Linked DNA regions of Homo sapiens: regions 2, 3, 4, 5, 6 and 7 are each linked to region 1. The links come from fine-mapping of genetic effects on gene expression. A gene starts in region 1. Each other region holds a variant in brackets. All regions are shown on one strand. Distances are between the middles of the regions.

Region 1 (4,063 bases):
TGCCGCTGCCAGTGCATTTCCTTCCAAGGGGCTCCCGTCCTGGCTGCCACTGCTGCAGTCTGGAGATTCACTCCTGACCCCAGCTGTCGCCTGGAAACAAACACCAAAGCGAGATCCGCGTTGAGTTTATCAGCAGGCCTGTGAGGGTGGAGGGATGGCAGAGAAGCAGCTTTGTGGCTGGGCTGCCACAGAGGACTCCACTGGTCCTCGGAGAAACACAGGAGCCGGCTTGCTTCCAGTGGCTCCAAACGGAAGCATAGTCTCCGTCGTAAAGCAGGGGTGTGGATGGCGTCCACAGCACCCACTGCAGACGCCACCCAGGGCCAGCGCTAGACGCAGAGGCTCTGGGTTGGAACCAGGGGTGCCGCCTTAACCTCCTGTTCTGCCCCAGTGAGCACCAGGCTTGCAAGGGCTGAGGATGAGAGAGGCCCCTGTGGCTGCAGGCTCCCAGCAGTCAGGGGAAGAAAGGCCATTCATTCTTTCAACGCATGGAACTGCTTTTTAGGAAGTGAAGGTAAGCAGTGGAAAAAAATAGGCCTCTATCTTCATGAAGCTCCTGTTCCTCTCCATGCAGTGTGTGTGTGTTTGTGTATGTTCACGTAGGTGTGTGTATGTATGTTTAGTGTGTATGTCTGTGCATGTGTATGGGTAGTATATGTGTGTGCTGTCTGTGTTGTGTGTATATGAACATATGTGTTCATGTGTATATGTGGTGTGTGTATGTAGGGTGTGTGTATATGTGTGTATATGTATGTGTGTACACGTGTGTAGTATGTGTGTGGTGTCTGTGTGTGGTGTCTATGTGTATGTATATGTATATGTAGTGTATGTGTGGTATATGTATGTGTGTATATATGTGTAGGGTGTGTGTGTGGCACTGGGTGCAATGAAGTTTTGCAACATAGAGGAGGGAGTGTAGTCTCAGTTCATATACACACCTACAGTTCATACACACACACAAACATACTCCTCAGAGAGGAGGTCAGGGAGGAGGAGACCTCGAGACAGAAGAAAGGGAGGTAAGGGTGGTACCTGCCCATGCTGGGGTCTGCAGGGGGACTGGGGGGGGACCTGCCCATGCCGGGGTCTGCAGGGGGACTTGGGGGGGGACCTGCCCATGCTGGGGTCTGCAAGGGGACTTGGGGGGGGACCTGCCCATGCCGGGGTCTGCAGGGGGACTTGGGGGGGGGACCTGCTCATGCCGGGGTCTGCAGGGGGACTGGGGGGGGACCTGCTCATGCCGGGGTCTGCAGGGGGACTGGGGGGGGACCTGCCCATGCCGGGGTCTGCAGGGGAACTGGGGGGGGACCTGCCCATGCCGGGGTCTGCAGGGGGACTTGGGGGGGGGACCTGCCCATGCCGGGGTCTGCAGGGGGACTGGGGGGGGACCTGCCCATGCCGGGGTCTGCAGGGGACTGGGGGGGGACCTGCCCATGCTGGGGTCTGCAGGGGGACTTGGGGGGGGGACCTGCTCATGCTGGGGTCTGCAGGGGGACTGGGGGGGGACCTGCTCATGCTGGGGTCTGCAGGGGGACTGGGTGGGGGAGACCTGCCGGTGCCGGGGTCTGCAGGGGGACTGGGGGGGGACCTGCCCGTGCCGGGGTCTGCAGGGGGACTGGGGGGGGACCTGCCCATGCCGGGGTCTGCAGGGGGACTGGGGGGGACCTGCCCATGCCGGGGTCTGCAGGGGGACTGGGGGGGGAGACCTGCCCATGCCGGGGTCTGCAGGGGGACTGGGGGGGGGAGACCTGCCCATGCCGGGGTCTGCAGGGGGACTGGGGGGGGGGAGACCTGCCCATGCTGGGGTCTGCAGGGGGACTTGGGGGGGGGACCTGCCCATGCCGGAGGTCTGGGGTGGGGGGCTGTGTGTGCGTGTATGTGTCCCCGCCCCCCTCGTGCGTCTGCAGCAGGTGCCTTCGGATCGCATCTCAGGAGCTGGGGCTGGGCGCGGGATTCCTCCCCTGCCAGATCGTTGTACGTGAACTTCTCTTGGCAAAGTTCGTCCGCGAGTCAATCGCTCAGCCTCGCTCAGCGGGCCCGGGCCGCGCCGGCGACCTTCCTTCGTCTCTTCCGCCAGGCAGCCCGCTGGGGTCCCTTCCGCTCAGCGGCCAATCCGCGGGGCGGGGGCGGGGGCCGAGGCCTCGGGGGAAGCCGATCCCTGCGCCCCCCGGGTCTCCGCCACCCGCCAGCGCCGTCCCTGCCAACCCCGCCCCTGCAGGGCCCGGGCCAGTTGGGAGCAGGGGCCGGGCCGCGGGCGGAGCCTCCCGGTCCCCGCCCTCGCCCTCGGCCAACTGGCGGTCTTGCAGGCGGGCGGACCCTCGGCCGCGCTCGGGGCTCCGGCGCCGCCGCTCCTCCTGCTCGGCCTGAGCTGCCCGGGCTCGGCGCGCGCTTGGGGCGAGGCTCGGCGGGCGCGGACGCGCAGCATGGCGGTGGAGGACGAGGGGCTCCGGGTCTTCCAGAGCGTGAAGATCAAGATCGGTGAGTGTCCGCCGGCAGCCACGCGTCCGACCCCCCGGCCCGACCCTGTCCTCTCCCGCGCCCGCCTCCCCTCCGCAGATCCTTGCTGGGGACCCCGGCGGAGACGCCCTCCAGGCGCGGCGCGCTCCCCGGAGAACGGCTGGTCCGGCTCCGCGGCCCCTCCCCACCTCCCCGCCTCCCCGGGCCTCGGGCTGGGTCGAGTCGGCTCCGGGGTAACGCGGCTCCCTGCGCCTCCTCTGCGCCCGGAGCGGCCCCGGTCCCTGGTAGCGGCGGAGGAGGTGGGGTCCCTGCGCCGAGGGACGTCTGTCCGCGTGTGCGCCCGAGCGTGTGCCCCGCGTGTTTGCAGGAGTGCGCGCGCCTGAGGCTGTCTGGGCGCCTGCACTTCAGGTGTCAAATCCACTGACGTCGGGGTCTCGGCATCTCCCTTTCTCCGCTGCGCCCAGAAACTTCCTTTCCGGGGAATGTGGAGGCTCCTTCACGCTTCTCCCCAGGGGCGTGAGGCCCCGGCGCGCTGCTGCTGCTGTGCGCGCGCGTCTGTGCCTGCGTGCGCGCGTGTTTGTGTGTGCTTGTGTTTGTGTGTCCATGTGTGGGCGGTGTGTGTGCGCGTGCGTTTGTGGGTGCATGTGTGGGTGCGTATTTGTGTGTGGATGCATGTGTGCGCGCGTGTGTATTTGTGTGTGGGCGCGTGTGTGTGCGCGCGTTTGTGTGTGTGCATGTGTGCGTGTGTGCTGGTGGGGCGTTCTGGCTGAGGGCTCCCGCGGGGCGGGGAGACCCCGGACCCATCGGCACCACGTCCCTTTCCACTGAGAAGTGGCGGGCGAGCTGGTGGCGACCAGGGCCTGCGAGGCTGCGGTTTTTCTCTGGGCTTCAGCAGCTTCTGAAGTGGGCTCCCGGAGGCGTTTCCGGAGAGGAGGCTGTGTCTGGACTTCTGGTTTATCTGGAGGGATCTGCTTTTCCCTGGTTGTTTTATCTTGGGAGAGTGATGTGGAAGTCCTCCCCCTCCCCCAGAGCAAGACCGTTTCCTGGAGTGACTGTTCCATATTCATGCCATGAGTGTGCTGGACCACAGCGCGGTTCAGGCTGGAGAGGCTTCCAGGGCCTGCAGTGTCGCGGTCCCCACGGTCCTTCTCCCCCACTGAGCCGCACTTCGCAGCCGGCCTCTTCCCGTGTGAAGAGGCCTCCGGGAACGGGCTGAGTGTCAGTTGTTGATGACATTTGATGCTGCCGGAGGCATTCCAGCTCCCCTAAACCAGCGGGCTGTTTCCTGTCGGCTTTATTTTGGTTTGCGGATCATCGCTGAGACACTGTCTTGATATTTGGCCCAGAAGCGCTGCAGCTAGGATGTGGCAGCACTTCCGCTTTGAGTAGTCCAGAGAGGAGGGATTTCTTTTGTTAATGTGGTTTAAATCCGCTGTCACTTTCATACAAGAAAGCCAGAGCTGGCGCTCCCTGAAGTGCCTGAGGTCGCCTTGCCTGGGTGGGGAAAGGTCGCGGCCCGTGGGGGTCAGTTTGCTGCTCTTTCCTTCAGCCAAGGCTGCTTGGCTCAGCCAGCGAGTCTGAGGAGTGTGAGAAGCACTGGGCTTCC
Region 2 (4,063 bases), 90 kb after region 1:
AAAGGGAGGCCCAGAGTGTTCGGTAAACTTTTCGGTGTGACTCAAATAGATGGGGACAACCCTGTGGATTAGGCACATCAGAGAAATTTAAGTAGACGCCGTGGCTTTTAGATCAGGCATTCTCTCAGGTCAGCATCTGGAGATACGAACACGCATGCTTCAAATGTCCACGGTCCCCATTGTTGAATGTGGCTGGCTTCTAGAAGGAAAGGTTGGGGGCTGGTGACAGAAGTGACCCCACGTCGGGAATGAGGTGGCAGGGGCAGGGATCCCTTCTCGAAGGGATTTTAAATCCTTTTGAATGTTGTGGATTTTGTTCTGTTTCTGTGTTACCTATTAAAAAATTAAGTGAAGTACTTCTAAAATTAAAGACTTGTAATCATGTGCCAGTTACAAGATTTTTATCCACGTAAATATGTGACTTCTCCCGTCCCAGTTTCAGCTCATAAAAATGTGAAGACACAGTGACATTGCAAGTATTTAAAACTTCAGACTTCAAAACTGACCCTCCTGTCCAGCTGAAGGCGTCTTGGAGTCTGAAGATTTATCCCTTTTCACTGAAATATATTGCCCAACTCAGTTTTAAGAAGTTTTTGCTTTCATGTGGCTTTATTCCTGTGAGACTCAAAACTGAGGTTCGTGTTGTGGGGGAAAGGGGAGGTTATGCAAGAGCCACGCAGCGGTCGTCAGAGGAGAGGACAGAGCCCCCACTCCGGACCCTTGAAGTCAAAGGCGCCCGCCCAGGGCTGCCGGTGGGAGGGCGGGGGGCTCAGCGAGTGAGGCGGCGGGGGAGCTCAGCGAGTGAGGCGGGGCGGGGGGCTCAGCGAGTGAGGCGGGGGGGGAGCTCAGCGAGTGAGGCGGGGCGGGGGGGGGGCGGGGGGGCTCAGCGAGTGAGGCGGGGCGGGGGGGGCGGGGGGGGCTCAGCGAGTGAGGCGGGGCGGGGGGGGCTCAGCGAGTGAGGCGGGGGGGGAGCTCAGCGAGTGAGGCGGGGCGGGGGGCTCAGCGAGTGAGGCGGGGCGGGGGGGCTCAGCGAGTGAGGCGGGGGGGGGAGCTCAGCGAGTGAGGCGGGGGGGGGAGCTCAGCGAGTGAGGCGGGGCGGGGGGCTCAGCGAGTGAGGCGGGGGGGGCTCAGCGAGTGAGGCGGGGCGGGGGGGCTCAGCGAGTGAGGCGGGGCGGGGGGCTCAGCGAGTGAGGCGGGGCGGGGGGGCTCAGCGAGTGAGGCGGGGGGGGAGCTCAGCGAGTGAGGCGGGGGGGGGAGCTCAGCGAGTGAGGCGGGGCGGGGGGCTCAGCGAGTGAGGCGGGGGGGGCTCAGCGAGTGAGGCGGGGCGGGGGGGCTCAGCGAGTGAGGCGGGGGGGAGCTCAGCGAGTGAGGCGGGGCGGGGGGGCTCAGAGAGTGAGGCGGGGCGGGGGGGCTCAGCGAGTGAGGCGGGGCGGGGGGGCTCAGCGAGTGAGGCGGGGCGGGGGGCTCAGCGAGTGAGGTGGGCCAGGCGGAGGTGTCCTGGCTGTCGTCCACCCTCGTGGTCTGCGCCATTAGAGGCCATTGGAGGGAGTCCACGTGGTGTGTCACTGGATTTCTCTCTGAGCCTCCCTGGTGTTCCTTCTCCCACATGTGCTGGGGCCTGTTTCCTGTGCCGGCCCCCTTGGTTCTTGATTTGGCTCTCGCCTGCCCTCAGTG[G/A]TGGTTTCAGCGTCCCGTGCAGCTCCAGATGGCCTGTGTATGTCTGTGTGGCAAGAGCTGAGCCGATGAGGTCACCAGGCTGATCTTAGGAACCCATGAGTGCCTGTGTGCTGTATCTACGTCCGGGTAGCTGTGGAACTGGCCGGCCCTGGCTGTGAGCGGGGGTCCCGGAGCTGGGAAGGGGCTTTTTCCAGGGCTGTTCCCAGGGCTGCTTTGCTTTGCAGAGTGGATGGTGTGAGGTGCAGCCGGCTCCCCTGAGGACATCAGATGAAGATGCTGACGTGCATGGCAGGTGTCAGCAGCACTGGAGGCAAACTGTCCTGATTCCGTCTCTCTCCTTTGGGCACTTGGAAAGCGTCTTTGTGCCTCTTTCCACCTTCCGCACCTCCCACCATGTCCTGTGGCCATGTGGTGCTCCATCATGTGGCCGACCTTGCGCTGTCCCATAGGGTCTGGAGCTGGTGCTGAGCTGGGCGTGTCTCAGACCCTCTGAGTTTGCAGACAAAGGAGGGGCCTGGTGGCCCAGGCCCACGGGCTCTGAGATTAGTCACGGAATGGACCAGTCAGGCTGAGAGGTCTCGCTCGCATGAGCCCGCGAGGCAGAGGAGCTCCTGAGGGAAGATGCGTCCTGGGACCTCGCAGGGTGGGGACGCCAACATAGGAAGGAACGCTGGCAGGAAGGCAGGGACGGAAGCTCCCTCTCCCTGCAGCCCCGGCCTGCTCGTCTGTGGGGTGTGCAGAGTGGTACCTGCTCCTCCAGGGTCACCGCAGGACCGACTGAGATGGCACCTGTGAGAGGCTGGCAGTGGAGTGTTCCCGAATTTACTGAGGCTGGACAGAGAATCAGGCCCAAGCATGTGGCTGCTGGATGCCAGGCCAGGGTTGTTCCGATGGGAGCCTGCGGAAGTTTTTTGAGACACGGAAATATAAAAGGATCTTCCTTGGAAGAGAGAACCGGGGCTGGGCTGCGCTGTCCTGGCGTGAGGCAGGGTGGCCGGGTAGGAGGCCCAGGCCGCTCCCGGGAGCCCAGGTCATGCACAATGTGCTCAGACCCTGTGGCTGCGGACGCTGCGGTGAACCGGGTCTGCGGGGACCCAGAGTTTCTCACTTCAGTGACTGGACCAAGATCCTTAAGGAGGGCGTGTGTGTCTCTGGGTGCAGAACGAAGACGTGAGGAGTCTGCCAACATTTCCTTCCTCACTCCTGCTCTCGTGTGTGCTCTGTGATGGGCTCAGACTTCACATGTGTGTGCGACTCCCTAGGAGTTCACGTGCATCGGTCAACAGAGGTGCATGTGCTGCCGTGGGTGCTCACCGTGGTGGGTGGCGTGGTCCGCAGTGTGCGGAGGCCACTGGCAGGGTTGACATGGTGGTGCCATGAAGGGACGCAGGATGGGAGATGGCTCGGTGCCCAGCGCCTGACAAGCCCTGTCCTGCCGGGGATGGGATGGGCACACGTTTGCCGCGCCTCGGGAATGTTTCTGGAATGAGGTGAACGTATAAGCAGATAATAATGGTTGCAGATGCGAATTTACACATATAAATCCATACTAGGTAAACGTATATTGTACAAATATATTCTGATACGTATTTTCACTGGAAGCGTAGCCCCAAAGTACTAAGCCTGTTTAAGGCACGGGAAACTGTTTAGAGTGGACGTTCCCAGACTTTGGGGCCCACACAAGTGCCCAGGGACCTGTGGTGGTGCAGATTCCAGCCCACACCAGAGCCTCTGTTCTCCTCCGTCTGGAGAAGGCCAGGAATCTACACTTTCAGGCTCTCCAGGGGTCCCAGAAGGCGGCTCATTCATTACACTTTAGAGGCACAGATTCAGACCAACCCACGTCGCGTGGGAAGGTGGCAGCTCATTCTGGCTCTCAGTCCTGCCTGTGAATAACCTGAGCACCCACATGCATGCACACACGTGCGTGTCCACACACACGGAAAGCACCCTAGGCACACGTGTGTTTCAGGCTGTCGCTCGCACGGGTGCACACGTGTCTCTTGTGGCGTGATGCTGCTGCCTTGGTGGTGTGTGAGGCACGGGGTGTTCATTTGTGAGATCAGAGCTCTGGTGCAGCCAGCTCCGAGGCACCTCCTGCTGTGAGAACTGGCCACGGACCACAGTGAAAGTGAGGCGCACATTGCCGATGGAGCGGACGTTCGCGCCTTCACAGCGAAGCCTCTGGAACGCCTTACTGGAAGGGACACAGTGGAGACTTACCGCTGCACCTGATTATTTTGACTTTTTAATATCAATTTTTAGAGATACAGTGCCACCATGCCCGGCTCATTCCTTTATTTTTTGTAGAGACAAGTTTTCACCATATCGCTCAGGCTGGTCTCAAGCGACCCTCCCCCCTGGGCCTCCCAAGCGTGGGGGTTCCAGG
Region 3 (4,063 bases), 120 kb after region 1:
TCCCGGGTAGAGTGAGTGAGTGGGGAGGGGAAACGGCTCCTGGGGCTCGAGGACAGCTCAGGTCCCCTCCCTGGGGCACTTTGGGAGCCCACAAAAATGGAGCACAGCTTCCCTCAGGACCTGCCTAGTGCTGTTTCCGGACGCCCTGTTCTAGAAACATCTGGCTGCACCTGCAGCCACTGTAGCTGACAGGAGGGTTTGCTTCTCTGCTGGCCCTTGGATGCTGCCAGGGTCTGGTGCCCAACTCTCTGCACAGGCAGAGGCCGCAGAGGGGAGAGGGCGGGAGGGCGAAGGCCAGCCAGGCTCCTCCTGAGCTGGTGGCCACGCAGGTAGCCGAACGGTTCCCTCTGGCAGTGTTGACACAGGACGGTTCCATGGCCAGGGCCTCCAAGCACCTGGCCTGGTTGTGCTCCTTGTAAAATGTCAGGAAGCCGACTGATGGGCGTGCACTGACCTCACAGCCCACAGGCAGGTGCTCGGGGCCAGGCTCTGCTCCGTCTGCACTTCCGCGTCCCCAGGAGACAAACGCTGTCCCCATCGCCATTTCCCAGGGACCCCAACACCATCTTCCGAGGAAACTCACTGGCGTCCAAGTGCATCGACGAGACCATGAAGCTGGCGGGGATGCATTACCTGCATGTCACCCTGAAGCCCGCCATCGAGGAGGTGAGCACGGGGCCGAGAGTCCTCAGCCTCACGAGGCGTGGGGAGGATTTCCCCCAACAGAGGGCACTGCACTGGGATCCAGCCAGACCACGAGCTGGGCTTGAATGTCGGCCCCTCTGGCCTCGCCACGGGGATGCTGATTCATTCACTTTTATCAAGAGGATGTTCCCTGTGTACTCCAGAACCTTCCAAATTCTCCCAAATTAAAACTATACATAAGAAAATCCACCACTCCACAAAGGAGAACATGCAAGAAAAGCCTGGCTCTTCCCAGGGAGACCTTCTTTCTCCACATGTCCTGCAGTCCCCTGTGTTTGGGCCCTGGCTGCGTGGCATGTTTGAGCTGCACGCCCAGTCCTCACCCGACCCTCTGATGCCCGCACACCCACTCCTCACCTGACCCTCTGATGCCCGCCAGGCTGTGCCCCCCGTTTATGAGCGGGTTTGTAAACAGGTTCTTTGCAAATGTGAGAAAATTGAACATAGCATTCTGGTTTGCTCTGTGGGCAAAATCATGGCAGCATTTTGAAGTAAAAATATTATTAAAGCCCTGTGAGGCCTAGTCCGTGTGGGCTGGTGCACATCACTCCTGAGAAAGCCCGATTCGTCTGATCGCGGGCGCACATCGCTCCCTGAGAGAGCCCGGCTCGTCTGATCGCGGCCATGGACTGGGCCCCGTGCCTAGTGTTTGCGCCTGACCTCTCACTTGTCCCTCCGCAGCCAGTGACACAGGCCCAGGGTTGCCCCCTTGCAGCTGAGGCTCGGGACGACACCACCCCACGGTGGCCCTGCAGTCCGGCCTCACCGTGCCCCTCCGTGCCAGTGGCCGGGTTCGGGGAGCTGTCGTGGCATTTTCTGGATGAGGCTCAGGGTCTACATCTCAGCCAGGCCTGAGACCCCTTCCACCCTCCCTGCCTGTGCCCCCAGAACCCACTCACAGAGCCCTGTCTTAAACCTCTCCCCAGATATGCCAGAGCCACAAACCCTGTGAAATCGACCCTGTGAAGTTGAAAGACGGAGAAAACCTTGAAAACAACATGGTAGGTTTTGTTCATGAACCAACCAAAGCCAGTCACCTGCTTGGGGTTTTTCAGCCGATGGCTGCCTGGAAGCTCTGACTCACCCCGTGACCCCGGTTGGGGTGGGAGCAGGACCAGGCGTGGGGATACCCGCCTCACCCGGCTGCAGTACGCTGGCTGCACTACTGGGAGGCCTCAGCCACCACCTTTGGCCTGGCCTGTGTGCCGGGCTCTGCGTCCCCTGGGGGGTCCCGGCCAGCTCTTCCTCCCCTGGAGTGATCCGGTCTGCATGCCCCAGCTCTGCCCCCCCGGAGGGTCTGCCCTGCACACCCTGCTCTGCCTCCCCTGGACAATCCTGACCAGCTCTGCCTCCGCCCCGGCTCCTCCTTCCCTTGGGCAATGGCTCCTGCCCCTCCCTTTTCCTAGGACAGGATGGCCTCCCTGCCTCCCCAGGCTGTCCCCAGAGCTGTGTACTGCGTTTTAAAACAGCAAAACTCCCTGATGTTGAACTTGCTCCAACATTTTAGTCACTTCACATGATACTTCTTGCAGAGCGTGCTGTTTCGTCATTTCTGTATGTAAATGACAGAGCTCTTTGCCTTGGGCAGGCACATTCTAGTGAACGTCCATTCCCCACTCAGTAAACGAGGTCGGGGCCGAGCCGGGGAGCCGACGTGGTGCCTGTGTAGTGATTTTCACGCGTGAATTGCCACAGCTCCCAGCACAGATTTCCAGGGAGTGGCTGTTCACACGTGTCTCACTGCCGCAGCTGCCCTGCGCCCGCCCTCAGCCCCTCCCCA[C/T]GCGCCCCTCCCTGGGCGTGCCCTGGTGCTACACGCACCTGTGGGCAGCCTCGGGAGTGGGTCCCAGTGCCGTGTCCCGTTGCAGGAGAACCTACGGCAGTATGTGGACCGCGTCTTCCACGCCATCACTGAGTCTGGGGTGAGCTGCCCGACCGTCATGTGTGACATCTTCTTCTCCCTCCGGGAGGCGGCGGCCAAGCGCTTCCAGGGTGAGTGCCCTGAACACCCTCATGTTGCTGAGAAACTGCCATAGCGCTGTGCAGGGTGACTCCCACCCAGGCAGAACCCCCCGCAGCCCTGGCTAGACTAGAACTGCGGGGTCGTGAACCCCAGTTCCGATGCTGGATTTTTCCGGGGTTTGTGCCCGGGCCAGTGTTCCCTAGTTCACAACCGCAGTGGTCTCTGGGGGACCCCAGCCCTGGAGTTCACCTCCACAGTAGTCTCCAGGGGACCCCAGCCCTGGAGATCACCACCGCAGTGGTCTCTAGAGGGGCCCAGCCCTGGAGTTCACGACCACAGTGGTCTCTGGGGGGGCCGGGAAGGGTGGCCAGGCTTTGTCGGGGTGGAATGTGAATTTTCCTGATGTGGACCCCTGGGTTTTCCCAGTGGTTTCTTTTTGTGGCCGACCCTGGCAGGGCCCAGAGTGGTGTTGGGGGCTCTGCCTGCCCGTGTCTTCGAAGAGACAGGACCCCTGGGGGAGCTGCCCTTTCTTCAAACCCCCAAGCCGGAGATCCCCTAGGGACCTGGGCATCCAGCACCCAAACCCCACTTCTCAACCTTGCCGACCCTCAGGGAGGAGCTGGGTGCCTGCACCCACCCATCACCTGCGATACTCAAGACCCCGCCAGGACTCAGGCTATGTATGGGGCGCTGAGAGGCTCAGCGAGGGCCTTGCTGCCGGCTCCTCTCTTCCTTGCGTGTCCTGTGGCCTCGGGACAGCTGCAGACACCCCGGGGTGGCCATGGTCCTGCAGAGCCGTCCACGCTTCTGTGTCCCCAGGAGACAAACGCTGTCCCCACCCCTGATTCTCAGGACATCAGACAGTCAGACAGCGCCGGCCGAGGGGCCCAGGGTTCTGGGGGAGGCAGTTCCCAAGCACATCCCAGCCCCAGACCCACTTTGAACAAGGTGGAAGTGAAGAGATAAAACACATCCTCTCACCCAGATGAGCACAGACCACTGTGGAATGAGACACCAAAGGGGCTGCGCTGTGTGGTGGTGATGAGAGATGGAGAGAAACAGGGAGAGATGGAGAGAGAGGCAGAGACAGAAGGAGAGAGACAGAGAGAGACAAGGAGAGAGAGAGAGAGACAGGGAGAGACGGAGAGAGAGGCAGAGACAGACGGAGAGAGAGGCAGAGACAGACGGAGAGAGAGATAGAGACGGAGAGAGAGAGATGGAGAGAGACAGAGACAGACGGAGAGAGATGGAGAGAGAGATCGAGACGGAGAGAGAGAGAGAGAGACAGAGAGATAGAGACAGGGAGAGAGAGACGGAGAGAGAGAGACAGAGAAAGAGAGAAAAAGAGAGAGACAGAGATAGGGAGAGAGACAGGGAGAGAGACAGAGAGATGGAGAG
Region 4 (4,063 bases), 29 kb before region 1:
CCCACGACCCACAACCCACCCAGTCTGCCCTGTTCTTAACACATGACCACTCCTGCCCCTGCCCTCGGCCTGGGCCCAGCTGAATGGATCACGGAAATGATCTCTCTAGAGACTGGAAGTGTTGGGGCGCAGCTGGTTCTCTCGGCATGTGGCTGGCAGAGACACTAGGAGACTGTGGGAGATGAGATGAGGGAGAGGCAGGGGAAATAGCCTTCAGGGGAGAGGACTTTGAGAAGAGGGACCAAGAAGCAGGTCCAGGAGGCCTGATGGGCTCTGGGTGGCTTTTCCAGCCCTGGCTTTAGATCTGCAGGAAGTCCAGCTGCCCTGGGTCTGTGGCAGACTCTGCAGTCTTCCAGGAAACTCCTTTTCTGTCTTGACCTGTGAATGGAGACTGTGTTGGAGGCGTTGGCAGTGAGGTAAAGTCACTCCTGTCTCCCCCTAGTTTTGTACATTGGTAATATTTGTTCTCCTGGAAAAATAGAGACAGGAACCCCCGCCTTCTTTATTTTTATTTATTTATTTATTTTGAGATGGGGTCTCACTCTGTCACCCAGGCTGGAGTGCAGTGGCGCGATCTCCACTCACTGCAACCTCTGCCTCCCGGGTTCAAGCAGTTCTCCTGCCTCAGCCTCCCGAGTAGCTGGGATTACAGGCGCCTGCCATCACGCCCAGCTAATTTTTGTATTTTTAGTAGAGACAGGGTTTCACCATGTTAGCCAGGATAGTCTCAAACTCCTGACCTCAAGTGATCCACCCACCTTGGCCTTCCAAAGTGCTGGGATTACAGGCGTGAGCCACTGTGCCCGGCTAACCCCTGCCTTCTTTAATAGAAAAATTCAGATTTCTAATTGACTGGCCTTCTTTATTTTCTTTCGCCTTCAGAAAAACTGGGAACAATATGGAAGATATTTATGCTCATGCTCCCAGTGGAGGAAATTTTTAATGCCTCGAACTTCCTAGAAGAAGAGCTCTCTGTTGTGCCTTGATGGCCGCATGGCCGTTGCTTGCTAAGACCCAGCATATGCAGTAGCCTCAGACAGAAATCCAGTCGCTCTGGTGAGTAGCCACCCATCGCTCGTCACACTCTCCCGAGACTCTGGCGAGTAGTCACATATCGTGCATCACACTGGTTTTGAAAAAGGACCCGAGCGTCTCTCCTGAGATCCCTGCACTCTTCCCTGGCGGCCGTCACTTCACCAACAGTGAGCTAAGTTCGTGACGCTTGTTTCTCTCAGGACAAAGCAGAGATTTAGGTGTCGGAAAAGCACTGCAGGCACCTTATCCCTGGACCAGAGACTCCCTTGGTCTGCTTTGTTTTTAAAGTAGAAACGGTCATTGTCAAAATGGCCCTCAGGCACAATATTTACACAGCAGAGACCCAGTCGCAGCCGCCTCACACCGAGGTCAAGGGGCAGAGACAGCAGGAACCGTGAGCTCTGGTTCCTGAGCCAGTGTCTCCTCCCTCTACCGAAGCCCTCGTGTTTGCACTCTCTTGACGAAACACCGAGCTATTTAAGTGGGAATAATATAGTTCCTTCTGTAGACAGCACAGCTGATGCCGTGGTCAAGGACAAAAATGTTAAAAGGTTTGGCCTTTAGTCGAGGACGGGCAGTTGTTGCTTTCCTGGAGGTAGCTGGACGCAGGCGGGTTTTCCTCCCGTGAGGAGCACAGCAGCCTGGGCGGGTGAGGAGGAGCCAGGCTGGGCAGGGCGGCTGTGGGTTCTCGACTTCCTCCTCCTATTCCGGGTGCCAGGAGCTGTTTACTGCCCTGTGAGAGCTTCCTGACAGCAGCTTCACTGGCCCCCTTCCAATCGAGTTCCTGCCCTCTCATCTTTGTGGAGACCACGCTGACTATGATTTCCGAAAATTTACTTGTTCTCTGCCAAATCCAAGGATTCCCACTCCCTCCCACCCATACCCTCGCTTTGCTTCTTCCCGGCTCTGCACACTCCCCAACTTGCTTCTGCACCAGGGGCCCCTCTGGGGAAAAGCAGATGTCCCTTGAGCTAAAGAAGTTGCAGTTCACCCAGGCTGGGCTGTCCTGGAGGTTGTGGGCACGTGAGCGTGGGAGGGGTCGTGTGTTCCTCCACGCTCACCCAGAGCAGCCCCCTCTCGGCTTCGTGTAATATGCTGGTGTCATACATACTTAGGTCTGTTGGAAGAAAATGTCCCAGGACTCACATAAATGATAAAAACCGTCGTTCCAGGCAGCCCATGGCTGGCATCTTGAGTGCCAATAACGTGCTCCCTGAAGCTTTCCCTGGTGGACACGAAGCAGCACTTCGCTCGTGATGGCTGATTGAAAACATGCCGGTGAACTGGACGACGGTGAGCACGACCCCCGCCCCCCGCCGCTGTGGCCGCCGCGGGGAAGCCTGCGCGTGAGTGGGACACACTTTGCCCTTCGTATTCTGAG[G/A]ACAGAGGTTTGGCGTGTTAGCGAGGCCGCCAGAGTTTCACTCACACCGCGAGGCGTTCTCTAGTTAGAGGCGAGAGGGCACGACCGGAAGCGGAAGCCGCGTGACTGGGGGGGCGGCGCCGTGCCCGCCTTGGGAAGCTCGCTTCCGGTGAGCAGAGGGATGGAAGAACGCGTGCGTTTAACGTGGCTTCTGCTGGCTCCGCATGAAACGGGTTTCCGAACAAACCATACTGGGTCCCTGCCACATGTGCGTTGACCTCATTGGAGGCGAACCTTTGCTCAGGAAACTGATTCACCCAGTGGGTGACAATCAGGAGGGGCACGGAGGGCCAACGTGAGCGTTCTCACAAGCTGGGGACGAATGACGAGGCAGTGGAACAATTGCGGGATGAGGGGGGGTCACGGTGAGTCCTGCTTTGAAAATGAGTCAGGAGTAGATACAACATTTGTAAAGATGACCTGCTACCAAAAGGCCTTTGGTAAAATTCAACATCCTTTCATGTTAAAAACTCTCAATAAGCTAGGTATTGATGGAACATACCTCAAAAGAATAAAAGCCATTTATGACAAACCCACAGCCAATAACATACTGAATGGGCAAAAGCTGGAATCGTTCCCTTGAAAACTGGCACAAGACAAGGATGCCCTCTCGCACCACTCCTATTCAACACAGTATTGGAAGTTCTGCCCAGGGCAATCAGGCAAGAGAAAGAAATAAAGGTTATTCAAATAGGAAGAGAGCAAGTCAGACTGTCTCTGCAGATGATATGATCCTATATCTAGAAAACCCCATCATCTCAGCCCCAAATCTCCTTAAGCTGATAAGCAACTTCATCAAAGTCTCAGGATACAAAATCAATGTGCAGAAACTGCAAGCATTCCTATACACCAATAATAGACAAGCAGAGAGCCAAATCATGAATGAATTTCCATTCACAATTGCTGCGAAGACAATAAAATACCTAGGAATACAGCTAACAAGGGAAGTGAATGACCTCTTCAAGGAGAACTACAAACCACTGTTCAAGGAAATCAGAGAGGACACAAACAAATGGAAACACACTGCATGGTCATGAACAGGAAGAATCAATGTTGTGAAAATGGCCATATTGCCTACAGTAATTTATAGATTCAATGCAATTCCCTTTAAACTACCATTGACGTTCTTCACAGAATTAGAAAAAACTACTTTAAAATTCATATGGGACCAAAAAAGAGCCGATATAGCCAAGACAATCCTAAGGAAAAAGAACGAAGCTGGATGCTTCAGTTACCTGACCTCAGACAAGGCTGCAGTAACCAAAACAGCATGGCACTGGCACAAAAACAGACACATAGACCAATGGAACAGAATAAAGAACTCAGAACTAAGACCACACATCTTCAGCCATCTGATCTTTGACAAACTTGACTAAAACATGCAATGGGGAAAGGATTTCCTGTCTAATAAATGGTGCCAGGAAAACTGGCTAGCCACATCCAGAAAATTGAAACTGGACCCCTTTCTTACACCTTATATTAAAATCAATTCAAGATGGATTAAAGACTTAAATGTAAAACTCCAAACTATAAAAACCCTAGAAGAAAATCTCAGCAATACCATTCAGGACACAGTCACGGGCAAATATTTCATGATGAAATCACCAA
Region 5 (4,063 bases), 21 kb before region 1:
ACACCCCTACACCCCACCACTGGCCCTAATCTTCCATCCCCATGCCCCACACCTCCACTTTCCCCTTAGCCCCTCACCCTCATGCCCTGCACCCCATACCCCACTGCTCCCACAGCCTTCCACCCCATGCCCCACACCTCTACCCTGCCCAAAGCCCCCACCCTCACCCTCACACCCCACCCCTCCTCATAGCCCCCACCCTTACATCAAACTCCCCCTACATTCCACCCTTCCCTAACCCCCCACCCCGTGCCCCACACCTCCACACCCCACTCCTCCCCTGAGTCCCCCACTTCCACACCCCACAGTCGCACACACTACCGGTCTCCCAGCCTTCCACCCTCACACCTTGCACCTGCGCACCCTCCCCCTCCCCCAGGCCCCACCATCATGCCCCCACACCTACACCCTCTAACTCGACCTTCTAACTCCCTGAGCTCCCACACTCTGCATCCCACACCCCACACCCCACCCACCCCGTTAGCCCCCACTGTCCCATGTCTCATGACCCACACCCCACACCCTCACAGCCCCCTCCACCCCCAACGCCCCACTACAGCCCCCCACTCACCATAACTCCACACCCCACCCCTGCATCCCCCATCCCCACCCCTGCATCCCCCATCCCCCACCACTTTGCCCCATGTTCCCAACCTCCCCAATCTCCCCCATGCCCCACACCTTAACCCCCTACCCTTATACTCTACCTGCACATCCAGCACCCAACCCCAACTGCAATCCCCTACACACCTTCCACGGCCACTCCGCACCCCCACACCTCACGGGCCTCCACACTCCTCAGAGCAACTGGAGCCTTGGGCCTCAGTGGTGGAAAGAGGAGGGTGAGCCTCAGCAGCTGCAGGAAGTAGCAGCCTCCTGGGACAGCTCATCTAAGGAGGACAGGCCCCCTTAACCAGAGAAGCCCCACAGGGTCTAGACACAGACAGAGTAAGGCTTTTTTTTTTTGAGACAGAGTCTTGCTCTGTCACCCAGGCTGGAATGCAATGGCGCGATCTCGGCTCGGCTCACTGCAACTTTCACCTCCCGGGTTCAAGCGATTCTCCTGCCTCAGCCTCTTGAGAGTAAGGCACTTTTTAACAAGGGAAAGGGGCTGAGCGTGGGGCGGCGCTTGCAATCCTAGCACTTTGAAGGCCTAGGCGGGAGGTGCTTGAGCTTGGGAGTTGGAGGTGACAGTGAGCTAGGATCACACCATGGCACAGACAAACCAACAGACAAAAAACGGGAAAGGCACAAATGAAACGATGAGAGCAGCAGAGAAGTGTGGCCACAAGGGGAAGGAAAACTGAGCAAACGTATCTCCTGGAACAAAAACATCAACCTTCCAAATCAAGACACACCCACAGTGGAACACAGAATGCTTAGTGAAATTTTTAAAAGAGGATTGGTTAGAAACTATAACATGAAATATGACAAAACCAAGGGCCACTGCATCCTTCCTCTCAGTCTACATAAGTAAATAAATTCGACTCACCTCTTCAACAAAAAGACTCGTGGGATCATTCGCAAAGTGAAACCCAACTTTACGTTGTGTGCAAGAAACAAGCAGAAAACACAGCAGCCCAGACCTTCCAAGGCAGAGGTCGAGGCGTGCAGGCAGGTCCTGAGAAAATGTCAACAGGCATGGAGATGATGGAGTGATGGAGATGATGGAGATGATGGAATGAGGAGATGATGCAGTGATGGAGATGATGGAG[C/T]ATGGAGTGATGGAGTGATGGAGACTATGGAGATGATGGAGATGATGGAGTGATGGAGATGATGGAGTATGGAGTGATGGAGTGATGGAGACTATGGAGATGATGGAGATGATGGTGTGATGGAATGATGGAGATGATGGAGATGATGGAATGATGGAGATGGTGATGATGGAGTATGGAGTGATGGAGATGAGGGAGATGATGGAGTGATGGAGTGATGGAGAGATGGAGATGATGGAGATGGTGGAGTGATGCAGTGATGGAGATGGTGGAGTGATGTAGTGATGGAGATGATGGAGGGATGTAGTGGTGGAGATGGTGGAGTGATGCCTCTAGGCTCTCGGCAAAATCTGCTTTTATCCTGGACCCTAAATTAAGTGTGTGGGAATAATAAAGATATTTTTAGACTCATACGGACTCAGAAAGTTTAGGCCCTGTATGATTTCTTCAGAGCAAGTTGGCTGAATTCTCACTATCGTAGTCGGAAGTCTGGCACAGACTCTATCTAAAATTAGTGAGTAGAGAGTGTTGTAATAACAGGAGGAGGTTGGAAATGCCTGACCAGAGGAAATAGTCGTCGTGGTTGCCATGCGGGCGGACGGGGAGATGGTTGAGGCCACCACTGCCGCCTCCCAGCACAAGCCCTCAGCGTTTTTAACCAAATGCACATGTTGTGCTTTCAATGTTGCTTTCAGCAGGAAGGCACATGGAGCTTTCTGAGTACTGACCCCGTCCCCCTCACACTTGCCTTTTGTTCTCTGAGCTGCCGGCCTCAGGCAGTCCGCGTCTTGTTTGAGTAAGGGAGGCTGCCCCGTTCCTGCTACAAGCGTCCCTTGCCGGCATTGCTGCTGCCCGTGTGACTTCCTGACTGGACATTTGCCACTGGCAGCAAGAAGCCCAGGCCCCTCCGATTCTGCTCCAATTAGGCCCAACCTGAGGGGCCTGACCGGAGCCCCATTTCCCCGTTGTGTCTTGACCAAAAGAATACCAGGTGGGCCATTACTTGCTTTCCAACAAACAGGTGGTGAGGAAAAAAACTTTTCCTTCACTCACTTATGTTTTTTAGTGACTGGAGTCCTGCAAATTGAACTGGCAAAAGTAGATTAACAGGAGAAAAAGCGTTACTTCATATGCATGTGGCGGCTTCACGAAATGAGACAAAAACCCCGCAGAGGCAGTCAGACCAGAGGCTTATTCACGATTTTAACAAAAGGCAATACATTTGTGAAGTGATGAGCTACAGGAAAACAGTGTTGGGTTCCTAGGGAGGTAAACTGTGAGCGGGGAATGGTGTGAGGAAACCACGGAAGCTGGGATTATTTTTGTGCGGGTCCTTGAGTGGAGCTCTCCCAGTCAGGTGAGGGTGGTGTCTCCAAGCACAGCAGGCACTGTGGCGCCGGGGAAAGAGCTGGAGCCTAGGACTGTCACACCTATCACCCGTGGGACAACAGTTATGTGTAGACTTGGGACTGGGGGACAGGTTCAAACCATGGTCTGCTACTTGCTGGTGACATCTCCTTAGGCAAAATCCTTAAATTCTCTGTAGAAAACAGCTCTAGCAATAGCATCCATTTCATGGGGTTACAGAAGAATTGAACGACTTAATAAACGCTAAGCACCTGACCGTGCCTGGTGTGCAGCTAGCTGTCACCACGTGAAGTGCTTAGCACAGCACTGGACAGGACCCTGGATGGAGGGCAGCGTGGCCGTGTTTGCTAGGGCTGCATTGACAGTCGTCAGCTGGGCGCTGCCTGCTTCAGCACAGACGATGCCGTTCCTCAAGGCGGTTTTATGCCTCTTCTTCAGAGTCAGTAGCACGTTCTCTAAAATATCCTTAAATATGGCAAATCTTTGTCTTTAAAGGTAAACTTGAATTTTATTTTTCAATACAGACCAAAGTAATTTGGAATCAAGTATTTTACAGGAAGTGAGTGATTCAGGTAGGCAGTGACACTGACCCAGAAGTCAAAGCGCCGCCTGGCTGTTGCAGCAATACCGGGCGGTGCCTAGGCTCATTCACTCGGCCCTGCTACCTACTTGGAAGAGCGCCCGGGCAACCGCCTACAGTCTCGCAGCTGTAACCTCCTCATCTGTCGAATGCAGAGGACAACACTTCATACCTCACAGGGTGATCTGTTCTGTTGGTTCACCTCGGAACTGAGGGGCTTCCTTGGACACTAACACTGGACGGTCGGGGGCAAACCGTGCAGTTGCCCCCCTAGAATTAGATGATCCGTGTGCACGTGGCACTGGTGAGTGCTCTGGAAATAGCTTTTCTTATTTCTTAAAAGTTGTTTTTAAAGATAGTTCAGAAACAATGAGTGTTTTGTTGAAATGGTGAGTTTGTG
Region 6 (4,063 bases), 26 kb after region 1:
CCCTGGCACCAGAGGCGTGGACTGAAAATGAAGCCACCTGAACGTCCTGTGACGGTCACGGAGCCGGTCGTGTTCGGGGGCCCGTGTGTGTTTGTCAGGCCAGGACCCTGCCGCCTGCCCTCTGGCTTAAGGAATCCAGTTGGGGAGAAACACTCCCTCTGAGTACCCCTGGGGTTTTGACCCAGCTTGAGGTTGTAAACAGGTGGAGGGGGCCGAGTGGAGAGGCCTTGCTGTGATAGAGACCTGGGCCTGCCCTGCCACCGTCCGCCGGGAGCCCACGGCAGCCTCGCCCTCCGACACCTGCACGCTGCATGCAGTGGACTGAACTGCAGGATGCCTGTGTTGCTGCCAGTTCTGCTGTTTGGGAAAAACTCTCTGTGTTAAGTTGGATCTTCCTTGTGACTGATTCAGAGGAGCCACGTTGTTACGGAAGGGCTGGGACCCAGACACAGGGTCCAGAGTGTCCTCGAGGTATCAGAAGAACTCCTGGAGAGCAAGCTGAGGGCTGTGTCGTCGCCACACCCTCCGTGGGTCCCTGCTCCTGAGTTAGGCTGTGCCCAGCCGCCCAGTGACTCAGAAGCTGTGCACACAAGGTGTGAATCCCACCTTGCTCTAGCACCAAGAAAACAGCACCTGGTGATGGGATGTGGATGGCGGACGCGGGGTGACAGACAGGGGATAATGGACATGGGGTGATGGACGTGGGGTGATGGACATGGGGTGATGGATGCGGGGTGACGGACGGGGGATCATGGACGTGGGGTGATGGACGGAGGATGACGGACGGGGGGTGATGGATGGGGGATGATGGACGCGGGGTGATGGATGGGGTGACGGACATGGGGTGACGGATGGGGGTGATGGACGCGGGGTGATGGACACGGGATGACGGATGTGGGGTGACAGATGGGGTGATGGTTTCAGGGTGACAGACATGGGGTGACGGACGGGGATGACAGACACGGGGTGACGGATGCAGGGTGACAGACATGGGGTGACAGACGCGGGGTGACAGACACGGGGTGATGGGGGATGACAGCTGCGGGGTGACGGACAGGGGATGACGGAGGATGATGGGTTGTGGGATGATAGGACTTCTCAGCACTGGTCGCTCCTGCCTGGGGGTGGGAGTGAATGGGAAGGAGAAAGGCTCGGAGAGGTCCTTACCCAGTGGCCAGGAGTGGGGCTCAGGTTTTTCGTAGTGTTCAGGGGATCCCGCAGAGCCCCTAGGGGATGGCAGGGCCACCCCCACCATGCCGGCGAGGAAGCAGGCTTGGAGAGGCTTACCCTCTGAGGCGGCCGTGGAGAGTGGCACTCAGGGGCTGGCTCAGGTCCCAGGCTGGGTGCGAGCTGATCCGCGTCAGCCTCTGGTTCTGAAACACTGAGCCTGGCTCCATTCTGAAAAGTGCAGCAGTAATTTGAACCTTGTTCTGAATGGCCCCGCTGATTCATCCTGCTTTTGCAGGGTCCTGCTGAAGGACAGCGGCTTCTGCTTCCTCTGATCCTGGCAGCCTGGAACTTCCTGAGAGGACTGGGCATGTGGATAGCCATGGGGGGGGACGTCCTTTAAACTGGGGAATGGGCTCCCCTAGACACAGTCGCTTCCACAGGAATCTTCTAGAGCCTCACCCAGGGCAGAGCAGACACCCGCAGCAGCCTGGAGTTCCGGGGAGCCC[T/C]GGCCGCCTGCCTGGGTCATGAGGGACAGGCCAGCCCCCAACCCTTGGGTAGGAAGAGCCCAGCCCTCAGACAGGACAGGCACCTGGGTGAACAGACAGCTTCCCCTGCAGGAGGAGATGCAGCTGTTCAGAAGCAGACCTCCAGCGTGGGAAAATCAGACCCATGGTGTCAGGGTGCACGAAGGCAGGACACACAGGCCCGTCCCCCGCGAGGGTCAGGACACGAAGGAGGGACACACAGGCCCGTCCCCCGCAAGGGTCAGGATACGAAGGAGGGACACACAGGCCACATCCCCTGCGAAGACCAGGACACGAACGTGGGACACACAGGCCTGTCCCCTGCGAGGACCAGGACACAAAGGCAGACACACAGGCCACGTACCCCGTGAGGGTCAAGGTGCCCAGGGTCAAGGCTGGAGCCTGAACGCTGTCCGCAGACCGTGGCTGGATGGAGACTGCCATGTTGAAATGCCTGCACATCTGATCCAGATGTGGCCGTGCACGAGAGAGGAGGTGTGGGCGTGCACACCAAGCCGTCCTTGCCAGATGTGGCTCTGGGGGGGCCTGGCTGAGGGAGGGAAAAGAGTTAACTTTTTCTACCTGGAGACTTAACTGGCTAGAATGAATATCTATTTCTTTGTAATTAAGAACATTTTAAAATACAGAAAAATAGTTTCCTTATAAGACTTTTAATTTTAAACATACGCAGAGCTTTCTAAATGGGACGCAGCATATAGTTTGGTTTCTGTGGGCCGTGTGCCTTCCATGTGCCTGGAGGATGGACAGGTGGTTTTGTAATGTGTGTCATAGTTTGCACCCAGCTGGTTCAGGTGTTAAGCCAAAAACAATTAATAAAGCAGTGGTGGTGATCAGTTCAGACAGAGCCCAACCCCTCCCCACGCCAGGGGCTTATGCTCCGGAGCGGGAAGCGTGTTCTAAGTGGGACTTGGGTGTGAATTTCTACACCTACGCTAAGTAAAATGGGCATTTATTTACAAAGCTCCGAATTACATTGTTTTATATTTTATGTTTAAACTTCATTAGGAAAAATTGCCATTATTGTTACACGTAATGAGTTGACTGTCAATATAAACGAAGGAAATGTTGGCAAAAGAAAAATTAGACCTATCATTTTTATTTACAATAATCTCAAATGCTGTTAAATTTGTAAGCATTTCTGTTGCTTTATAGATGTTTTGGAAAAGCTAATTTTAAGTTTTCAAGAATGAGAAGTTGTCCCCACTGAAAGCCTGGCACGTTAGCGTCTTTCTTTGCGTTAGTTTCTCTCCATTCTTATTTTGCTCCGTGGAGATACGGTGCGCGCACACATATTCAATATTAAACACACATCTGTAAACACACACAGGAAACATTAAACCCATATGTTTCTATGTATTATTGAAAGTTCATCGGAAAAGACAGCAGAGGCCGTGTGCCGCTCTGCCATGCGCCCATCCGGAGGCTGCCGTGTGCCGCTCTGCGATGTGCACCCATCCCAACACCCGGTCATCCTCTTCCTCCCACTCAGTGCCTGCGATTTCCTGCCGTGGCCCCAGAGGAATGGCAGCTCTTTAGGGTCAGGACTGCTCAGCTCAGGGCGGGTGCAAGACGCTCTGTGTGTCAGAGTCTTGCACTGTGGAATGCCCGCTTCCTTTCCCCCACGCTGATTCCCCCACTGTGTAGCTTACCGTAATAGTTTCACAGCTAGCTGACTTCCTTAGGCCACTGGAATATTGATTTGTTCTCATGTTCTCTTAAAAATATTTTTCAAAGATTGAGAAGACACCGTAAATATGCCGTCATGGTCAGGTGTCAGGACAACGGACGGGCTGCTCAGAGCCTGGCCTGGTTTCTGTCGTTTCTGGAATGCTGTGGATGTGCTGCAGACGCCAGTGCCTCCCGTCCAGCCTCAGGCTGGGTGAAGCGAGGCGGAGGGAGCGTCTGGTCAGTGCTGGCCCCGGATGTGCCTGTGGCCTTGTCAGGCAGGAGGCAGGTGAGGAGCTTCGATGCCGGTGGTCCCTGTCCCCGTGCTGGAGGAGGGGGGCTGCCAGTGCTGCTCCTCCTTGGCTGAGGCCTCCTGAGCCCTTTTCCCCTAGGTGTCCCCTCCCAAAGCCGGGCTCCTCATAAATTTGGGGGTACAGAGCTCTGCGGCACCCCTTGGTGGAGTTGCCTCTGGAGAGCTCCACTGCTGCTGTGAACCTGCCTCTGCTTGCTGGTCACACGGCTGCCCAGTGAGCACCCCTCAGTGCAGGGTCCATGGCACCCTGGCATCTCAGAGGGCTGGCGGCTGCTGGGGATGAGGCTGGAGCCCAAGGGCAGGGTGGGGGCTTGCGTGGGGGTCGTCCTCCCAGTCCCGGACCTGCCCTCCTCCTGGGGAGAGCCCCACC
Region 7 (4,063 bases), 140 kb after region 1:
GCAGAGACCCCCCGGTAAAGACCCCCTGGGAGACCCCCCGGCAGAGACCCCTCAGCCCCACCCGGACCCCAGCCGGGACAGCGGGGCCCGCACCCACTGACAGTCCATCTCTGCTGCAGGGGACCAGCCTCTCTACAGCATTCCCATCGAGAACATCCTGGCAGTGGAGAAGCTGGAGGAGGAGTCTTTCAAAATGAAAAACGTGAGTGTGGGGCCCCCAAGCCTCTCTTTCGGGTTGAGGCCTGGCCAGGTTTTCTCTGCTCTCTTCCCGTACCTGGCCCTGGGCTCACCCTTCCCCACCCACTGCACTCCAGGCTTCTCAGAGTCTTCGTGTTACTCGGGTTGTTCACCAGGTGCTGGTGAGTTTGTGTCGGAATCTCGCATCAAAGCAGCCACACTCTCTGTGCCCGGGGTCACCGGGGTGGGGTGGAACCTGCCGGAAGGTGGGGCCTGAGCTGCTTCAGGTGGCGTCCCCCGCAGGGTCCCCAATGTCAAGGGGCCCTCTGTCAAAGACATCCCAGAAGCAGGCTTGGGACCGTCTGGAATTCCTTTTGGAAGCTTTTTTATTTTGATATAATTTTGAATTTATAGAAGTTGCACGAGTAGAACAAGTACTTTCCACACACCCTTGACCCAGACCCGTGTGTGGCCTCGTTCCCCGGTCACGCTTGACCCGGGCCCACGTGTGGCCTCGTTCCCCGGTCACGCTTGACCCGGACCCACATGTCGCCTCGTTCCCCAGTCACACTTGTTCCTTCTCCCTTCACGGTCCCGCCCGTGCTTTTCTGAATGTATCAACACTTCCAAGTGTGTTTCCCACCGTGCAGTCCCCAAAACCACAGCAGCCACCATCGCACGTCGCCGGCGCGACCACATTCGAGTTTGCCGCTGTCCAGTCCCGTTCTTCCGGCTGTGGTTCCTTCCCCTCTGGATCCAGTCTGCGCTGCATTCTGCTGCCCCCTCCGTCTGGCCCACTGGACACTCCCAGCCTTTCTTTGTGTGTGGTGGCCTTGGCATCTTTGAGGCGTGCAGGCCTTCGGTTTTCTGGACATCCCTCCCTGTGGGTTTGTCGGATGTGCCGACGTGGCAGGTTCTGATGATGCATTTCTGGCGGGAATCCCCTAGAGGTGTCCGTGGCGTCACCATTGTGTGGTGGCCTCCCAGAGTCGGCCGCTGGCCACGTTCTCCCTGGTGACTCAGTGCCCCTTCAGCCAGTGACCCCGCCGTCCGTGCCATCCTGAGGCTGACCCCGTACCCTGACACATGCTGGCTGGGACAAGCCTTCTGTGCCCCGACTGCAGCATGAGGGTCATAGAACAGTTGCAGGGAAGGCACAGTCCCTGGGCCTCGTGCCAAAGTTGACGCATGTTCCTTACCATTGGCAGAATTTTACTAGCATGTTATTCACAGGCAGTCCAGACAGATCCTGCAAAAGGCATAAGTTTGGAGAGTAATTTGAAGAGGAGGGCATGGGAAGAGGAGGGCTGGGAAGAGGAGGGCTGGGAAGAGAAGGGTTGGGAAGAGGGGGAGATGGGAAGAGGAGGGTGTGGGCTCAATGCCTGCTGACTGAGGGGGATGGCCGGAACCTGGCCCTGAGACCGTCCCTCGAAGGAAGCAGTGTGGACATGTCCTGGAAGCACCTCCAGCCCTTCACATAGATTCCCAATAATTCCCTAGTTTCAGCCGCCTGTTCCCAGCTGTTCATTCCCACTGACTTCCTCAGAGCCCGATTCCCCTGAGGCCACTGCCAGGCCAGGCTCTCACCAGCTGGGGAGACCTTTCTGAAGGCTGCTCCTGGTGGCAGGGCCGAGCCTGGGATGATGGCCAGGACGCCCTCCATGGGGGATCACAGCCATGCACGGGGGCGTCCAGTCCGAGACCTATACACATGTGCCGGGTGCAAGGCGGGAGGCTCCTGGCCTCTGTAAATAAGACCTCAGCTGTTCACCAGAAACCTGGAGCCCAAATCCTCCCCAGATGAGTGCAGAAGGCCCGTCCCCTAGAGAAGGCCACTGTCCCCCTGACTCCTGACTTAAGGGCAAGTCCCACATGAGAGCCCTCCCAACCTCCAGTCAGTCTCCTACTCAGAAAACCTGTCTTCTGTGTGCAACAGAGCCGGCTCCTTCTGGGAGCTTCTGACCTCCAATCCTAGGATATCTGTCCCCCCTGCCCCAGCACCCCCGTCCCTCTAATCCTAAGGCTTCTGTCACTCCTGCCCCGGGAGACCTGTCCCTCCAATCACAGGACCCCTGTCCCACCTGCCCCAGGACCTTTGTGCCTCCCATTTCTTCTGCCTTTGACACCCTTTGCCCCCACCCCCTGCTTAACTAACTTTGAGTCAACGCCGACTACAGCACCAGGACTGCTCACTTCCAGCTTCTGCTGACACCTGCCCTCGTTTAGTCTTTCTTGGTGGCT[G/A]CAGGTTCAGTAGAAACTCTATGCCAGGCTTTGTCTCCGGGACATAGGAGAGTGCTGGTGCTCAGTCATGTTTGTTGAATGAGTAATAAATGGTAAAGGTTGTTGCTGCCCCGAGACGCTTCAAGAGGAAGCAGCCCCCTAACCCCAGCTGGGAGGAGGAGGAAGAATCCTGGGCTGGTCAGTTGGGGAAGGAGCTGAGCAGGCCGGGCCACCTGGGCTGACACAGCACGAGCACCACGTGGATGGGATGCCTGCAGTCAGCTGCAGGAGGGCCTTGTGGGGAGGCCACAGGGCCCCTCTTTTGTCTTGAATGGAGACCTCCAAGGCTCCAGGACATAAAGGGCCTTGGCCAAGCTGTTCCTGGCCACCTGGCCACATCTCCAGCTGCACCAGTTCTCACCTCCATTCCCCACGGCCCCAGCTGTCAGGTTTTAGGGTGGCAGAGAGCTCCATGCACCCCCTGGCCTTGGCCTCTTCTGGGGCTTAGAGCTCCAGGACTTTTGGGCCTGTGCACCCTCAGCGTCCCCTCTTACGACTCCGGCGAGGACGGCCAGGTGCCTGGTGGACTCTTGCACGTGCTCAGCCACGAGACCTCATGTGCGCTGTCCTGAGCCCACCTGTGTCCTCAGATGTTCCAGGTCATCCAGCCAGAGCGTGCGCTGTACATCCAGGCCAACAACTGCGTGGAGGCCAAGGACTGGATCGACATTCTCACCAAAGTGAGCCAGTGCAACCAGAAGCGCCTCACCGTCTACCACCCGTCCGCCTACCTGAGCGGCCACTGGCTGTGCTGTAGGGCGCCATCCGACTCGGCTCCGGGCTGCTCGCCCTGCACTGGGTAGGTCTGTGCCTCGGTGCCCAGCTCGTGCACTGTGCAGGAAATGTGGCCAAGGGGCTGAGTAGGGAGGGACCAGCAGACAGTGCATGCCTGCCTGTAAGCTGCACATAAACAGGGCTGCCCTCGCCTCCTCCCAGGAGCCTCCCACCCGAGGGGTCCTCCCTCGAGGGAGCATCTGGGGCCCAGCCTCTGGAAGGCTCTGCGCAGACTCCAGGGTGCCACAGGCCTTCGAGGGTCTTCCTGAGGCCCTGCCCCGGGGGAGCGGGAGGTCAGGGTGAAGGGGGACTCCCCAGGCCGTGGCCATCCTGCTTCTCTAGGAGGAGGCTGGGAGCAAGCCCCTCCCTGAAAGCTTCGTCTGGCCCAGGACACCCACCTTGATTCCACATGACGCAGCAGCCCGTTGTCTTCCCGGCCCCCCATCAGCCGGGTCCCCATCAGCCGGGCCCCCCATCAGCCGGGCCCCCCATCAGCCGGGCCCCCCCATCAGCCGGGCCCCCCCATCAGCCGGGTCCCCCATCAGCCGGGCCTCCCCATCAGCCGGGCCTCCCCATCAGCCGGGTCCCCCATCAGCCGGGCCCCCCATTAGCCGGGCCCCCCCATTAGCCGGGCCCCCCATCAGCCGGGTCCCCCATCAGCCGGGCCTCCCCATCAGCCGGGCCTCCCCATCAGCCGGGCCCCCCGTCAGCCGGGCCCCCCGTCAGCCGGGCCCCCCGTCAGCCGGACCCCCATCAGCCGGACCCCCCGTCAGCCGGGCCCCCCGTCAGCCGGGCCCCCGTCAGCCGGGCCCCCGTCAGCCGGGCCCCCCAT

Alleles and levels. Positions count from the first base shown, and alleles are read on the strand shown. Sizes are in standard deviations (SD) of each study's normalised expression. Not every link is listed here.
As copies of A replace G in region 2, the expression in fibroblasts of the gene that starts at base 2,290 in region 1 goes up (moderate effect, 0.68 SD a copy in GTEx).

What was found. PIP is the estimated chance that this variant, and not a neighbour inherited with it, causes the effect.
Region 2: its variant is fine-mapped to the expression of RASA3 in fibroblasts (GTEx, PIP above 0.99).
Region 3: its variant is fine-mapped to the expression of RASA3 in whole blood (TOPMed, PIP above 0.99).
Region 4: its variant is fine-mapped to the expression of RASA3 in whole blood (TOPMed, PIP above 0.99).
Region 5: its variant is fine-mapped to the expression of RASA3 in whole blood (TOPMed, PIP above 0.99).
Region 6: its variant is fine-mapped to the expression of RASA3 in whole blood (TOPMed, PIP above 0.99).
Region 7: its variant is fine-mapped to the expression of RASA3 in whole blood (INTERVAL, PIP above 0.99).

The regions. Positions count from the first base shown.
Region 1 is chr13:114,130,850-114,134,912 of GRCh38, reverse strand. RASA3 (RAS p21 protein activator 3) reads left to right here and starts at 2,290. Exons shown (of 24, transcript NM_007368.4): 1 at 2,290-2,478. The coding sequence starts at 2,424. It overlaps LOC107987192 (a long non-coding RNA gene), which reads left to right and starts at 3,910. Exons shown (of 2, transcript XR_001750050.2): 1 at 3,910-4,063. RefSeq lists enhancers at 1-269, 99-278, 2,567-3,194, 3,365-3,864 and silencers at 1,985-2,084, 2,115-2,774.
Region 2 is chr13:114,041,239-114,045,301 of GRCh38, reverse strand. The region is part of intron 3 of RASA3 (RAS p21 protein activator 3); the gene reads left to right. Among named protein-coding and RNA genes, the nearest start is that of RASA3-IT1, 67 kb to the left of the region's middle. RefSeq lists enhancers at 1,466-1,565, 1,826-1,965. The variant G/A (reference allele first, on the strand shown) is at 1,675.
Region 3 is chr13:114,013,840-114,017,902 of GRCh38, reverse strand. It overlaps RASA3 (RAS p21 protein activator 3), which reads left to right. Exons shown (of 24, transcript NM_007368.4): 12 at 552-666; 13 at 1,632-1,706; 14 at 2,571-2,694. Among named protein-coding and RNA genes, the nearest start is that of C13orf46, 42 kb to the right of the region's middle. The variant C/T (reference allele first, on the strand shown) is at 2,486.
Region 4 is chr13:114,159,786-114,163,848 of GRCh38, reverse strand. No RefSeq gene overlaps it. Among named protein-coding and RNA genes, the nearest start is that of CFAP97D2, 17 kb to the left of the region's middle. RefSeq lists an enhancer at 1,197-2,097. The variant G/A (reference allele first, on the strand shown) is at 2,417.
Region 5 is chr13:114,151,472-114,155,534 of GRCh38, reverse strand. No RefSeq gene overlaps it. Among named protein-coding and RNA genes, the nearest start is that of RASA3, 21 kb to the right of the region's middle. RefSeq lists an enhancer at 3,737-4,063. The variant C/T (reference allele first, on the strand shown) is at 1,716.
Region 6 is chr13:114,105,171-114,109,233 of GRCh38, reverse strand. The region is part of intron 1 of RASA3 (RAS p21 protein activator 3); the gene reads left to right. RASA3-IT1 (RASA3 intronic transcript 1) reads left to right here. Exons shown (of 2, transcript NR_046544.1): 1 at 1-593; 2 at 1,466-2,920. Among named protein-coding and RNA genes, the nearest start is that of RASA3-IT1, 2.6 kb to the left of the region's middle. The variant T/C (reference allele first, on the strand shown) is at 1,677.
Region 7 is chr13:113,995,724-113,999,786 of GRCh38, reverse strand. It overlaps RASA3 (RAS p21 protein activator 3), which reads left to right. Exons shown (of 24, transcript NM_007368.4): 20 at 120-202; 21 at 3,048-3,256. Among named protein-coding and RNA genes, the nearest start is that of C13orf46, 24 kb to the right of the region's middle. The variant G/A (reference allele first, on the strand shown) is at 2,419.